Linked DNA regions of Homo sapiens: regions 1 and 3 are each linked to region 2. Evidence: fine-mapped expression QTL. A gene starts in region 2. Each other region holds a variant in brackets. All regions are shown on one strand. Distances are from middle to middle.

Evidence for each region. PIP is the estimated chance that this variant, and not a neighbour inherited with it, causes the effect. A credible set is the group of variants that fine-mapping cannot tell apart.
Region 1: its variant is the best candidate, but not a certain one, in a credible set for the expression of CDC123 in sun-exposed skin (GTEx, PIP 0.75).
Region 3: its variant is the best candidate, but not a certain one, in a credible set for the expression of CDC123 in whole blood (INTERVAL, PIP 0.50).

What each region holds. Positions count from the first base shown.
Region 1 is chr10:12,239,882-12,244,881 of GRCh38, forward strand. The region is part of intron 10 of CDC123 (cell division cycle 123); the gene reads left to right. Among named protein-coding and RNA genes, the nearest start is that of CDC123, 46 kb to the left of the region's middle. The variant G/GTTC (reference allele first, on the strand shown) is at 2,085.
Region 2 is chr10:12,194,197-12,199,196 of GRCh38, forward strand. CDC123 (cell division cycle 123) reads left to right here and starts at 1,992. Exons shown (of 13, transcript NM_006023.3): 1 at 1,992-2,123; 2 at 4,509-4,580. The coding sequence starts at 2,050. NUDT5 (nudix hydrolase 5) reads right to left here and starts at 1,695. Exons shown (of 10, transcript NM_014142.4): 1 at 1,574-1,695. RefSeq lists an enhancer at 1,739-2,008.
Region 3 is chr10:12,256,608-12,261,966 of GRCh38, forward strand. No RefSeq gene overlaps it. Among named protein-coding and RNA genes, the nearest start is that of CDC123, 63 kb to the left of the region's middle. The variant C/A (reference allele first, on the strand shown) is at 3,454.

The DNA.
Region 1 (5,000 bases), 46 kb after region 2:
CTTGTAGTCCCAGCTACTCTGGAGGCTGAGGCGGGAGAATGGCGTGAACCCGGGAGGCGGAGCTTGCAGTGAGCCGAGATCGCGCCACTGCACTCCAGCCTGGGCTACAGAGCGAGACTCCGTCTCAAAAAAAAAAAAAAAAAAATTATTATTATTATTTTTAGTCAACTAAAAGTGACTCAAAGTTTGAGTTACTTTTATCTTTAGACAGAAGAGGATTAGTTTATTTTTTAAATCTTAAAAGTGATGAAAACTTCTGTAAGGAAAAAGTTAAAGTGACTTACTAGTAAAGTTACTTACTGCTGACTTAATGAAGAATTACTAGAGCAGAGATTTCACTGTCCAAGACATGTCATCTTTATTAAGAAGTTTAGGTCACTAAATGCTGTTTGGTGCTGAGTGCTCTTTGACATTGTGAAGAAGCTAGCAGATGCGTTTTCCCGTGTCACCTACACACAAGCAGAATATTTCTCATTCTCTCTCCGTGCTTAGATCAGCCTCATTGTAAGTGAGACAGTCATTTGAATCTGAATCACCTTTGGACATCTTCGAATCATCTTTGGACAAAAAGATATGGCCCATATGATCATGTCCCAGAATAACTGTTAACTGTTCATTTAACTCTTACGTCAAAAGACATCACTATATTTTCACCTCTTTGTCTTCAAAGATGATGGTGTCTGTTAAGAGTTACTAGAAAGAGGGGCTTTAGGCCATTGTTGTGGCTCACGCCTGTATTTTCAGCATTTTGGGAGGCTGAGGTGGGAGGATGGCTTGAGCCCAGGAGTTTGAGATCAGCCTGGGCTTAACATAATGAGACCTCGTCTCTACATAAAAATTAGCCAGGTGTGGTGGTTTGTGCCTGTAGCCCCAGCTACTCCCGGGAGCTGAGTTGGGAGGATCGCTTGAGACTGGGAGGTTGAGGCTGCAGTGAGCCATGATCATACATGTCATGCCTAGCAGTGAACACCAGGTTGTGTCTGGTCTTCTGCAGTCTGCCATGGTGAATAATCCCGTACGTGTGTCATTTCACACGCTGCAGGTGAATCTACAGGGTGAATTCCTAGAAGCGGGATTGCTGGCTCAAAAGTGAAATGTATTTTAATGTTGCAGTTTACCCTCGGTAGAGGTTACACCTGACCAGATCCCCCCAGGAATGCATCACAGTACCTGCAGGCTTCCTCAGAGCTTGCCTTTACAATATAGGGTTACACTCTTCAGGGTTTTTGGGGTTTCGTAGAGAAATGATGTTTCAGTATAATTTCTACTTCTATTTTTCTTAGTAAGTGAGGATGAAGTTTATCTTTTCATATATTTAAGGGTCGTTTCTGTGAACCATTGCTTCATGTCTTTTTCACTTTTTTCTATTGTCTCATTTTCCTCAAAATAGAGGCACTGTTTATGTATTACAGAGATTAGGCCTTTGTCATTAGTCTTTTCCTGTGAACGAGATCACATAGATTATTTGTTTCTTTTCTGGCTTTTGAATTTCAGCCATCATTTTAAAAAATACTTCCCCATGGTTTTTGTCCAGTTCTTTTGTAACTTCTTGTTCTCCATTTCAATATTGGATGTTTGGCTTTTGTTCCTTTGCGTGTTTGGTATGCGATATGGATCCCCCTTAGTCTTTTTGTCTAGCATCAATATATTTATTTTATACTGTCCTTCAGATTGATGATGATTTCCAGAGTTCTTGGGGCTTTAATGCCTGTTGCGTTTACAGACTCTCATCCGGGTTGGTTGTTTCTTTTTTGTTTTGTAAATCAGTTTATTTATTTACTTTGAGTTCATCTTCAGTGAGCTTGTTCTTTTTGTTTGTTCTTTTGTTTGTGAGAATCCCAAAGATCCAAAATTTTGGGTTTTTCATTTGCTTCTACCATGTTCCTCAAAACTCATTCAGAGAAGAACAGTCATTGTGTCCTGCCCTGTCATTAGAACTGTCTCCTCACACTCCCTTTCCTGAGACTGTCGCCTTCTGGAGTTTGTGTCTGAGTTCTGATTCCCTTCCTGTGGCCAGGCTGCTAGGAGACCCTCCCACGGGTTCCCACAGCACTAGAGTTGATAGGCTTAGTTCTGTTCTTCGG[G/GTTC]TTCTTGTTTCTGGCCCCGGGGGATTTCCCGGTCTTTCTCATAATCTCAATTACACTTTTAAACGGCTTGTCGTAGCATGTGTTTCATCCTGTTTGGAACAGCAAGCCTTGAGAGTTACATAGCTGGCTGTATTTCAGGAGCCCTCACATATCTCACACTCCAGCCAAAATAACCTATTCCCGCAACAGGCGGTCGTGGCGTGGCCTCTGTACGTGAGAGCCGTCGTTCTTGTTAAGTGGTCCGCTTTTCCTGCCAACACCACCCTCCTCCCAGGGCATCTCTGTTATCCCTCAGGTGCCCAGGTCCTTTGGGAAGCATTTCCAGCCTTCCCTCGCACATGTAGGCAGGCTCTCCTGTGTGCCTCTCCGCTCTCACAGTTCCCTGTTCTTGCCTCTCTTGAAGCAAAATACCCTGCACATTGCCATTGTTGGATGGCTTTTGGTTCTGTTTTGGGGAAGTGGAGATGTGTGTTCTGCTCAAGCCTGAGCTCTTGGAAGGAGTCGATTTTGTGTTACGATCTTCATGCCCAGTGCCTAACACAGTGTCTGGTCCCTAGAGCTTGATCGGGGCAGGGAGACAGTCAGCTGGTACAAGGACAGTTAGTCCGACTGCTCTTTGCTTATTGGATTGCCTCAAAGCAGAATTAACTTCTCAGGCTGTTTGTGCTTGAGATGTCACATGAAAACATGTTATGGCCGGGCGTGGTGGCTCACACCTGTAATCTCAGCACTTTAGGAGGCTGAGGCAGGCAGGTCACCTGAGATCAGGAGCTCAAGACCAGCCTGGCCAACATGGTGAAACCCCGTCTCTACTAAAAATACAAAAGTTAGTCAGGCACAGTGGCAGGCGCCTGTAATCCCAGCTACTTGGGAGGCTGAGGCAGGAGAACCACTTGAGCCCAGGAGGAGGAGGTTGCAATGAGCTGAGATCGCGCGACTGTACTCCAGCCTGGGCAACAGGGCGAGACTCTGTCTCAAAAAAAAAAAGTTATAAAATCCTGATCCTGATCCTCCTAGTTTATAGAAGTTACAGCTGGGTTTTTTTTAATTTACTTAAACTCTTTTTTTTTGTACTAGAGGATAGCTTCTGAGCTACAGAGTACACTACCAATTAACAGTGGTGGTTTGTTTTCATTTAAAAATGTGTTTTGGGCTGGGTACAGTGGCTCACGCCTGTAATCTCAGCACTTTGGGAGGCCTAGGCGGGCAGATCACCTGAGTTTAAGAATTGGAGACCAGCCTGACCAACATGGTGACACCCCATCTCTACCAAAAATAGAAAATTAGCCAGGCGTGGTGGTGCATACCTGTAGTCCCAGCTACTTAGGAGGTGGAGGCAGGAGAATTGCATGAACCCAGGAAGGGGAAGTTGCAGTGAGCCGAGATCTCACCATTGCACTCCTGCCTGGGCAACAAGAGTGAAAAAAAAAAAAGGAAAAAATGTGGTTTGGTTTTTTGCATTGTGGCATATTCCTATATTAAAAGTGTGATTGTTTAAAAAAAAATGAGTTAGTTTTACTGACTATAAAAAGCCAAGTAGAGGCTGGGCACAGAGGGTCACGCCTGTAATCCCAACACTTTGGGAGGCTGAGGCAGGCAGATCACGAGGTCAGGAGATCGAGACCATCCTGACACAGTGAAACCCTGTCTCTACTAAAAATACAAAAAATTAGCTGGGCGTGATGGCGGACGCCTGTAGTCCCAGCTACTTGGGAGGCTGAGGCAGGAGAATCACTTGAACTCGGGAGGCGGAGGTTGTAGTGAGCAGAGATCGCACCACTGCACTCCAGCCTGAGTGACAGAGCGAGACTCCATCTCAAAAAAAAAAAAAAAGAAAGTCAAGTAGAAAAGATTTGGAGGTTAGAAAATGTCCATTTTGTATCATGACATATATTGAAGACATCTTAGCAGTATTCTCCAAAATAAAGTTGACATCATTACCAAGAAGTTGTTTGACGGCTGATACTGTTTCACATAGTTCCAGGAATGAAGAAGTGGGTGCCAAATGGAGGTGAGGAAACAACTCAAGCGGTGAGAAATTTGCAGGGCCTCTCCTGGGGCTTGTATAAAATGAGGAACTTACCTAAATGGGTTGTGCTGAAAACATCCTGCGAAAACATCCTGCGACAGGCCTGTGCCACTTAACTGGAGGTTCTGGTATTTGAAGCAAGTCCTAATTAGATGTTGCATCTTTCTTAACAGTTTGCTCTCGCTCAGCTGAGAAACAGTGCCAGATATTAGGCATGCTGGCTCAGCGGTCTTGTTGCTTGGAATTTCACAGACACACACCCGCTCAGGACATGGCGGCAACACATTTATAGAAAAAAACAAATTCATTATTAACCAGATGGCACAAATATATGAATGTTTCAGTGAGAAAAGTGAAAAGGAGCAAAGATAAACCTTTCGAGGAAACATCCATCCACTTCGTGTCAATAGGTGTTCGTGATCGGATGCCGTGGCCGTCATTCCTGGCGGCGCAGCCCCTGTGCCCCCGCTCTGTGCGTGTCAGCACTGGCTGTTTTCTGCTCAGAGGCCCCAGCCCTACCTCAGCACAGTGCCCCCAGCTCAAAGGTGACCTTTCCCTGAGGAGAGTCACCAAATTGCCCACCTGTGGTTTCAGAACAGGACAAGGTAGACATTTCTTTCAGAGGTTGGGGTGGTTTTTTTTTTTTCTTTTTTCTTTTTTTTTTTTTTTTACGTCCCCTTCATATGCTGTCAAGCTCTATTGTACAGACGGAACACTTACCACATTCACATAGAAAGAAAACAGCATCTTCAGGCTGGGCACGGTGGCTCATGGGGAGGCCAAGGTGGGAGGACATTTGAGGTTAGGAGTTCGAGACCAGCCTGGCCAACATGGTAAGACCCTGTCTCTAGTAAAAATGCAAAAATTAGCCAAGCATACTGGCGCAT
Region 2 (5,000 bases):
TGTTAAAGTACTGCTCCTCGCAGAAGGGCTATGTTCCCGGGATCTATTCTCTTCCGTACATTCATTCCTATCTTCATTAGAAAACATCTGACCTAAATAAATCCCCCATCGATGCTAACATCTCCTTCCGCGCAATTTTTTACTTTCTAAGTCAAATCAAAACAATTATTTGAGCGACTGCTCCTGTCTGCCATTAAGTCTTTCTGGCACCACCCTCCAGACATATATACAATATTGCTTCTTTCCCTCAAATCAGAAAGGACTGCATAGTTCCGGATCAAGGCATAAATGATGAATCATGACTGTCCATCCCCACCAACATACTCTGCAACATTATAATCTATTTACCTCTGCTTTGAAAATGTATTCTTTAAAGCACTGCTTCCAACTAGCCACTTAGCCAGTAACATTTTTGAGAAAAACAAAACACAACCCAAAACAATGTATATATTCCTGGGGGGAAGAGTTTCTAACTCAAAATACGCAGATAATTGTTTATTATTCTAAGGAACACCCTTCTGAAGAGGCCTGCAGTCGGTGGGGCTGTTTCTAATTTAAAACTACTTAGGTGAACCAGGAAGAATGTACATTTAAGGAGATACTTTTAGACGCAGATGCCTCGCGCAAGCCTAAAGCTCGTGTGGTAAGCGACACGACTAGGGGTTAAAAGCGGCTGGTTGGTAGGCCCGGGGCCGTGGCTCACGCCTTGTAAACCCAGCACTTTGGGAGGCTGAGGCGGGCAGATCACCTAAGGTTAGGAGTTCGAGACCAGCCTGGCAAATATGGTGAAACGCCGTCTCTACTAAAAACACAAAAATTAGCCGGCGTAGTGGCGCGCGCGCGCTCTCAGCTACTCGAGAAGCTAAGGCAGGAGAATCACTTAAACCCAGGAGGCGGAGGTTGCAGTGAGCCAAGATTGCGCCACTGCACTCCAATCTGGGCACAGAGTGAGACTCCGTCTCAAATAAATAAATAAAAGCAGCTAGTTACTTCTCATTCTTTTAACGAAACAAACAAAACTGAACTTTGCTGGGTGACAGGAGTGAAGCAAAGGAAAAAACGATAGTACAAGTTCGATTCGAATTCTTCCAGTCTTATGATTCGATCATCGCAGGAATACTGATAAAAATCTGCGTTTTTTCCAGGTTGACAACTTTTGCGAGGCCAGACTAAACGAATTCAGCGCTCCAAGGAGACTCCTCTTTCCTCTGCTTTCTCACATTTACCTCTCGCCTTTTACCTCCCAAAGTCGAACCCTCCAGGATCGTACAGGCGGTATTCCCTCTACCAAGCATTCTACTCCTCTGCAGATGCTGCAATCTTTACACTGGAACTAACACTTAGCTGTGGTGTTCCCCGCTTTCTTTACTCGGAGTAGCCCAGGCTCTTCCTCTCCAATCCACAATTTCCCTCCAATCCCCAGTTTCCCTCTTGGGCGCCTGGACGCGTGCCCAGCCGCAGCCTGGGAGACACCGCGCGGCTGCACGCACCATGCAGATGTGGTCCCTTTCCCCTTCTTCTTCTCCTCCCCAAAGAGGTTTTGTGCTGTGACTGGCTTGCCCCGGTTACTTACTCCAAGGTGTAGGGGTGAAGAACGGAAGAGGACGAAATAACTAGCTGGAGGCAGCAGTGTCAGCCGATGCCGGTGCCACGGCTCGAAACACCGGCGCCTCTCGCGGTGCTAAAAGGATGGGCGCGCACCCTCCTTCCGGCATCCGTAGAACCCCCGCCTTTGACCTAGCTTCAGGAGATTACTTTCCGGGTCAGCGTGCGTTTAGGGCGAAGACGGAGTTGTAAACTTCTTAAAATTCCTCTCTCGACACTTCGGTAATTCCTCTTTCGAGACTAAAGCTCTTTTTGTATGCGTGTGTGTCAAGCGTATGCCCCGGGATTCTCCTCCGCTTCCTTTTCTCGGTCTTCCTTCTTGCTTTAGGGACCGGAAGAGTCCTTGAACCAAAATAGCTCGGCGGGCACTTCCGGGGCCGGCGCCCAGAGTTCCGGGAGGGTGCAGGCAGGAGAGGGAAAGGCAGCAGCGGCGGCAGCTGGAGGATGAAGAAGGAGCATGTGCTTCACTGCCAGTTCTCCGCGTGGTACCCGTTCTTCCGAGGCGTTACCATCAAGAGGTGAGATGGGAGGGGGTTCGCCCGGTCGACCGGCAAAAGGGAACTGCGACTTCTGAGCGAATCTTACTGCTATCCAAAAAAATGCAGGCCTTCTAGCGACTGCATGGGAGGGAGTGTGTCGAGAGGGAAGTACATCAGCAATTGTCTGCGTCCTGTTGCGAGCCAGCGAGTGTGCTGGCTAGGAGGGTCAGTTGTGGTTTTCAGTGAGGGTCGGAGGCGGGAGGAATAGTGGATTAACCTAGTTTAGGCTTGGGAGTTCACCACCACTACTTTTAGAATGGCCCCAGGCGCAAGGTGATCACTGCCTAAGTGCACTCGGAGAATTAATTGCTTTTCGCCATCACCCCAGAGGATGGAGATTGGGAAGGTGAAAGGATACGTAATTACAGTTAGATACGAGAACAAGTTCACAGATATGTCGTACAGCATGGAGGCTATAGTTAATGACGATATACGTATTCTTGAAAAACGGAGAGTGGATGTTAGTGTTCTCACCACAAAAATAACTATGTTAGGCAATGCATTTGTTAGCTAAATTTATTCCACAGTGTATATATACTTAAAAACATCAGGTAGGCGGCAAGTATTAATATATACAATTTCATCTCTCAGTTTTTTTAAAGGCGTTGATAGAAAATCTGGGCTTTGCACTTAACTGATTTTCTGAGCCAACATTTCAGTAATTGCTGATTCATTATATGATGGTTTCATTCAATAAAGATCGGATATGTACTTGAAAATGTGTAACTGGCTTAGAATGGTTAAAATGTATAAGAAAAGTTTCAAGTTCTTAAATAGTATTGGAATGTGTGGTAGAACCTTAGATTCATTGTACTTAACAATTTCGCTTGTTAGCTTTGTAAGAGTAAAATACTTAGGAAGGCTTATTTGTAATCAGCAAATAGACATATTAAGAAAGAAAATTGAGTGGTTTATGAATAGAATTTAAAATTTTAAAGAGACTTTTAAGTTGCAAAGTTTCGCTTGAAATTGTTTAAAATTTAGTAGATTTTCAAACGTAATAAGATTTGTTAGAAGAAATTAAAAGCCTGAAGAACTAGATTTTTTTTTTTTGAGACAGAGTTTTGTTCTGTCGCCCAAGCTGGAGTGCAGTGGCAGCGATCTTGGCTCACTGCAAGCTTCCCTTCCCGAGTTCACGCCATTCTCCTGCCTCAGCTTCCTGAGTAGCTGGGACTACAGGCGCCCGCCACCACCCCCGGCTAATTTTTTGTATTTTTAGTAGAGGCGGGGTTTTCACCGTGTTAGCCAGGATGGTCTCGATTGCCTGACCTCGTGATCCGCCCGCCTCGGCCTCCCAAAGTGCTGGGATTACAGGTGTGAGCCACCGCGCCCGGCCAGAACTAGATTTTTGAATGTGAAATTGTACCTTTGATAAATCAAATATTTATTTTTAAAACCGAAGTTTTTGCTCTGTCGCCCAAGCTGGAGTGCAGTGGCAGTGATCTTTTATTTATTTAAAAATAAATAAAAATACTTATTTTTAAAACCGAAGTAGCCCATGAATACTCTTTTTTGTGCAAAAAAACCATTTGTAATGTGCCAAAAAAAACTTCTTCCATAAATAAATGAGACATGTTATAAGTCATTGATGTTCTGTTAACTTCGGGAAAGCAGGCTGTAATCTTTTCCACTTTTTGAAGATGTATATGCCTCAAAATCAAAATAATACCAGCACTCTTAGGGATCTGTGGTAGGGCTTTTTGATAATTTATTATTTCAAGGTAAAAAACAAATTATCCCATAAGTTTTTAAGAGACTTCAGGTATGGCTTTGCCATCCTTAATTATGATTACCTGAAACAAATTAAGCTAAAGCATGCCTAGTTTAAGCAGCTTTATATCTCTGGTGATCAGTTGAATAGAAAGCCAGCAAGACACATCCAAAAGTATCATGAATTCTTAGCGGTAGGTGCTCACTGCCAACCCAAGAATGGTTTCCAGATCTTGACTCTACTTCTGCCCTCTATCTTTAGAAGGTGACCAAATGCTAGTCATCTTCTAGTTGGGTTTGCTGCATTTCCTGTGTTGCAGCAAATATCTGCTGGTCTCTGATTTCTTAAAGACACATAAATGTTGTGCTCACTCAGAATCCTTTTGAGCTTGTTGCTTTCATACTGTGATTTCCATCTGGTGGTTTGGATTTGGCTGGTTTTTGTTTACTACAAAGACCATTGTGGCAATAAGATGAACCGCAGTAATCTTATTATTCTGATTTCTTGTCTACTGCTACCAAATGTACATCATTAACATTTTCTACTTTATATTAAAAGAAAGACAATTCCAAAATTAATCAAGTGTAGAGATTTTTCTCTCTGCTTATAGTTGGTCTTTTAAAATGATGCCTTTTTTGGTGTTTTTTTTTTAGTGTCATTCTTCCACTTCCTCAGAATGTGAAGGATTATTTACTCGATGATGGAACTCTGGTGGTTTCAGGAAGGTAAAGTATTTTAGAAAAAAATTTCTTAAACTTTATCATAAAGAAACACATAAAATGAATGAATTAGCTTAGGCACCATTCTTTCCCTTTAGCTCTTTTTCTCTCCTAGCCAAAATGATGTGCTGATCTTTGTCTCATATTCCTTCTCAATGTTCACTTAATATTTTCAACATTAAGTACTTTTCCCTCTAATAATTACAAGTTGTGAAATTGAGCAGTTCCTTTCATCTCTGTCTTTAGAAAACAGTTATGATGACAACTTTTCCTTCTGACGGTAGCAGGGTGGGGGAAGTACATATTAAAATTCTTTGAGATCCTTCAGTTTTGACGATTAAAAATTCACTGTTGCAAACAGGCTTTATCATCTAATTCCTCAACATTTTCTTCCCCACGATTGAACTACCGTGGCCCCCCCTCCAC
Region 3 (5,359 bases), 63 kb after region 2:
AGGTCACTGGTACCTCTCAATGAGTTTATAGGTATGAGGAGTGAAAAGGACATCATATGGCCACCTCTCATCACCCTTGGTGGCCACAGACTTGTCTTTTTTGAAATCAAAATGAGAATGTCCAAATCAATCTTTTTTTCTGGCCAGCAGGGGGGAAGGGGGGATGGAGTCTTGCTCTCGTAGCCCAGGCTGGGGTGAAATGGCACAATCTTGGCTCACTGCAATCTCCGCCTCCCAGGTTCAAGCAAGTCTCCCATCTCAGCCTCCCTGGTAGCTGAGATTACAGGCACCCGCCACCACGCCCGGCTAATTTTCGTATTTTTAGTAGAAACGGGGTTTCGCCTCCCAAAGTGCTGAGATTATAGGCATAAACCACCGCGCTAGGCCCGAATGAGTCTTAAGAAAGGAGAGACAAAGATCCCAGGGTATGATTTGCTCACTTCTGGATTTTGAATGCAAAATAATGCTCCCCCAAAACTCGAATAATGGGAAGAAGTATGGTCAATCAGTTAAGCAGTTTTGGTTGCAAACAACAGAAACTAACTCTAGTTAATGAAAGCATGTACTGGAAGGATGTGAGGTGCCTCAGGAAATTGGCGCAAAGTGTGTAAGCTCCACAGAGAGAACGGAGACTGGGAAAACTTTGGAGACGCAAAAGACACTATCCCAGGACTTAGCTACTAGAGAGATTCTGCCTTCTGTCCTGATGACACTGGGCTCAAGATTCAGTATCCGGCTGGGTGCCATGGCTCACGCTTGTAATTCCAGCACTTTGGGAGGCCAAGGCGGGTGGATCACCTGAGGTCAGGAGTTTGAGACCAGCCTGGCCATCATGGTGAAACCCCATTTCTACTAAAAATACAAAAATTAGCCATGTGTGGCAGCGGGTGCCTGTAATCCCAGCTACTCGGAAGGCTGAGGCAGGAGAATTGCTTGAACCTGGGAGGCAGAGGTTGCAGTGAGCCGAGATTGCACCATTGCACTCTAGCCTGGGCAACAAGAGTGGAACTCCATCTCAAAAAAAAAAAAATTAAAATTATTTTTTTGTCTCCCAGGCTAGAGTGCAGTGGCATGATTATGACTCATTGCAGCCTCAATTTCCGAGGCTCAAGCTATCTTCCCACCTCAGCCTCCTGAATAGCTGGGACTACGGGAATACACCACCACGCCTGGCTAATTTATTTTTATTTTTAGCAGAAACAAGGTCTTGCCATGTTGCCCAGGCTGGTCTTGAACTCCTGAGCTCCAGCAGATCCTCCTGCCTCAGCTTCCCAAAGTGCTGGGATTACAAGCATGATCCACAACGCCGGGACCCTTCCCAGTGTTCTCTATGATCCTTTCTGCATCTCCATCCAGTACCCTCAGGACCTCACATCTGTCTGTCTGTAATAACCAACCAGTTGGGCTTGCAAACCTGCTTCTATCTTCCTCCTGCCTTTCTTGTTTGATATAGATTCCATATACCCCATGTAATTTCACTCTGATCTGTGTAAACTTATTTTCCACGACCCTTAAAACATCCTCAGCTCCCAGCAAGTCTGCCTTCTCCATGTTCTTTCAATATCCGCGGCATTCCTGCTTGCTGCCTCCCCTCGAAGCTTCCTGCTCACCTGGAATATGAATGCCCTCCTTAAGCTCATCTGTTCATTTAGGCCAGAGATTCTCAGTCTTAGTCGTATATTCTTTTTCTTTTCTTTTTTTTTTTTTAGACGGAGTCTTGCTCTGTCTCCCAGGCTGGAGTGCAGTAGCGCGATCTTGGCTCACTGCAAGCTCCGCCTCCCAGGTTCACGTCATTCTCCTGCCTCAGCCTCCCAAGTAGCTGGGACTACAGGCGCCCGCCACCACACCCGGCTAATTTTTTGTATTTTTAGTAGAGACGGGGTTTCACTGTGTTAGCCAGGATGGTCTCGATCTCCTGACCTCGTTATCCACCTGCCTTGGCCTCCCAAAGTGCTGGGATTACAGGCTTGAGCCACAGCACCCGGCCATATACTCTTTTTCTTTTTCTTTCTTTTTTTTTTTTTTCCACATAGAAACAGGTATGTGCATTGGGTGGGGTGGGGGGGGGGTCTTGCTATGTTGCCCAGGCTGGTCTCAAACTCCTGACCTAAGGATCCTCCCACCTTGGCCTCTCAAAGTGCTGAGATTACAGGCATGAGCCACTGCACCCGGCCCCTAGTTGTGTATTCTAATTACCTGGAGAGTATTTTTTTCTTAATCAATGGAGAATACTCATCCAGACCAATTAAACTGAAATCTCTGGGGCCCAGTAGTTTGTTCTTGTTTTTGTTTTTGTCTTTTGCTTTTGAGAGGGAGTCTCCCCTCTGTTGCCCAGGCTGGAGCATAGTGGTATGATCTCTGCTCACTGCAACCTCTGCCTCCCGGGTTCAAGTGATTCTCCTGCCTCAGCCTCCTGAGTATCTGGGATTATGGGTGCCTGCCACCACACCCGGCTAATTTTTGTATTTTTAGTAGAGATGGAGTTTCACCATGTTGGCAGTGGTTGGCCAGGCTGGTCTCAAACTCCTGACCTCAGGTGATCTGCCTGCCTCGGCCTCCCAAAGTGCTGGGATTACAGGCATGAGCCACCAGCTGGGCCCAGTAGTTTGTTGTTTATGTTTGTTTGTTTGTTTTGAGACAGAGTTTCACTCTTGTTTCCCAGGCTAGAGTGCAATGGTGCAATCTCGGCTCTTCACAACCTCTGCCTCCCGGGTTCAAGCAATTCTCCTGCCTCAGCCTCCTGAGTAGCTGGGATTACAGACATGTGCCACCATACCCGGCTAAATTTTGTATTTTTCAGTAGAGACGGGGTTTCCCCATGTTGGTCAGACTGGTCTCCAACTCGTGACCTCAGGTGATCCGCCTGCCTTGGCCTCCCAAAGTGCTGGAATTACAGGCGTGAGCCACCGCGTCCAGCCAAGGCCCAGTAGTTTTAAACATCCCCCAAATAATTCTAATGTACTGCTAAGGTTTAGAACCCCTATTTAAATATTAGGCCTTATGTGAGCATCTGTTAACCCCTCCTGCTCCTAAGGCCCTCCCAGATCAATGTAGCCACTATACCTTTGTCCTCCTTCTTTGAGCTTCTAGAGAGCTACAGTCCACATTATCAAACCAGCAGCTCGTTACCTGCTTTATTGTATTAATTGCTAGTTGTCTAGGTGTTTGTTTATATGACAAGCTCCTGAGGCAGGAACAAAATGCTTAGATTAATAAGCTTTTCCAGATAATGAAATATAATACAAAATAGATGGAGACACCCTCAAGAGTATTCCAAGTCACTGCGAGCGGGCAGGAGAGAGGAAATTGTCCCCACAAAGTTCATATGTTGAAGTCCTATAACCTTCATACCTGAGAATCTGACTGTGTTTGGAGACAGGCCCTTTACAGAGGTGATGAAGCTAAAATGAGGCCTTCGAAGTGGGTCCTAATCCAATATGAGGGTGTTCTTAT[C/A]AGAAGAGGAAATCTGGACACAAAGACACCAGGGATGCCCAAGCGCAGAGGAAAGGCCACATCCAGGACACAGCAAGAGGGTGGCCATCTGCACACTGTGGAGAGAGACCTCAGAAATGCACCCTGCCGACACCCTGATCTTGGACTTCCAGCCTCCAGAACTGTGAGACAATAAATCATGTTGTTTAAGCCACCCTTAAAACCCTGTCTGTTGTATTTGGTTATGACAGCCCCAGCAAACTAACACATGAAGTAAAGGTGTAGGAAAATTAAAATTATAAGTTTAGGGAAAGTAATCGAAATCATCCTTATGAGCTCTGAGCTAGCAGATGCCATTCGTTAACAGGATCAGAAACCCCTGTAAATTGCCCTCCCAGGCAATACTAGCCTGATGCACTGCTAAATGCCAAATGCATCTTTACAAAGGATATTAGAAACACACAAACCCATGCCCATGCATAGAGCACAGCAGAGGAACACCTATACCTGGCAGACTAGGGTTTTTTGTTTTTTTGTTTTATTGTTTTCAGACAGAGTCTTGCTCTGTTGCCAGGCTGAAGTGCAGTGGCATGATCTCGGCTCACTGCAATCTCTGCCTCCTGGGTTCAAGCAATTCTTGTGCCTCAGCCTCCCGAGTAGCTGGGACTACAGGTGTGTACCACCACAGCCAGCTAGTTTTTGTATTTTTAGCAGAGATGGGGTTTCATCATGTTGGCCAAGCTGATCTCGAACCCCTGGCCTCAGGCAACTCTGCCCTCCTCAGCCTCCCCAAGTGCTGGGATTACAGGTGTGAGCCACCGTGCCCAGCCAGACTGTGGTTTTAAGAGGGCATTTCACATGTGAGAGCTTTAGACACCCCAAAACCTGAGTCTGTCCTGCAAGATAAAGGCACAAAATGATCAGGTGGATGGAACTGCTGCTCTTTATAAAGAGATTTTTAAAATTTCAGTCTGAATTGGGATATAGGAGCTTTTCTAGAATGATAGTATGATAATAAACTTGTCGCAGACACCCTCAAGGTGACTACCAATGAGCCCTTGTATAACCTCTTCCCTGGAGTGCAGGTGAAAACTATGACTTGATTCTAACCAATAGATTATGCTTAGAATCCTTGAAGCCCTGACCTCCTGGGATCAAGCGATCCTCCTGCCTGGGCCTCCCAAAGTGCTGGGATTACAGGTGTGAGCCACCGTACCCGGCCACTACATGGCCTTTGATTTCACTTTTCTCCAGCCCGCCAGCCACATCCCACCTCCGTCTCTCACCTGATTCATGCTGCTGTCTGAGGCTTCTCTGTCTCATCTTTTTTATTTATTTATTTGTCTGAAACAGAGTCTCGCTCTGTTGCCCAGGCTGCTGGAGTGCAGTGGCACAATCTTGGCTCACTGCAGCCTCCACCTCCCGGATTCAAGTGATTCTTCCACCTCAGCCTCTTGAGTAGCTGAGACTTCAGCTACAAACATCCAAACTATGTTAGATGATCATGAGGTGTCACAATAAACTCTCAGGAAAATAATGGGGGAGCCTGAAAGTGACTTTGAGTGTCAGGAAGGTTTCTGACCTCAGCTCTCTGGAAGCCAGGGGTGAGCATAGCTCAAAATATGGGACAGGCTGGGAGCAGTGGCTCACGCCTGTAATCCCAGCACTTTGGGAGGCCGAGGCGGGCAGATCACTTGAGGTCGGGAGTTTGAGACCAGTGTGGCCAACATAGTGAAAACCCATCTCTGCTAAAAATACAAAAATTAGCCGGGCATGGTGGTGTGCACCACCACGCCCAGCTAATTTTTTGTGTGTGTTTTTAGTAGAGAAGGGGTTTCCATGTTGGTCAGGCTGGTCTCAAACTCCTGACCTCAAGTGATCTACCCGCCTCAGCCTCCTAAAGTGCTGGGATTACAGGCATGAGCCA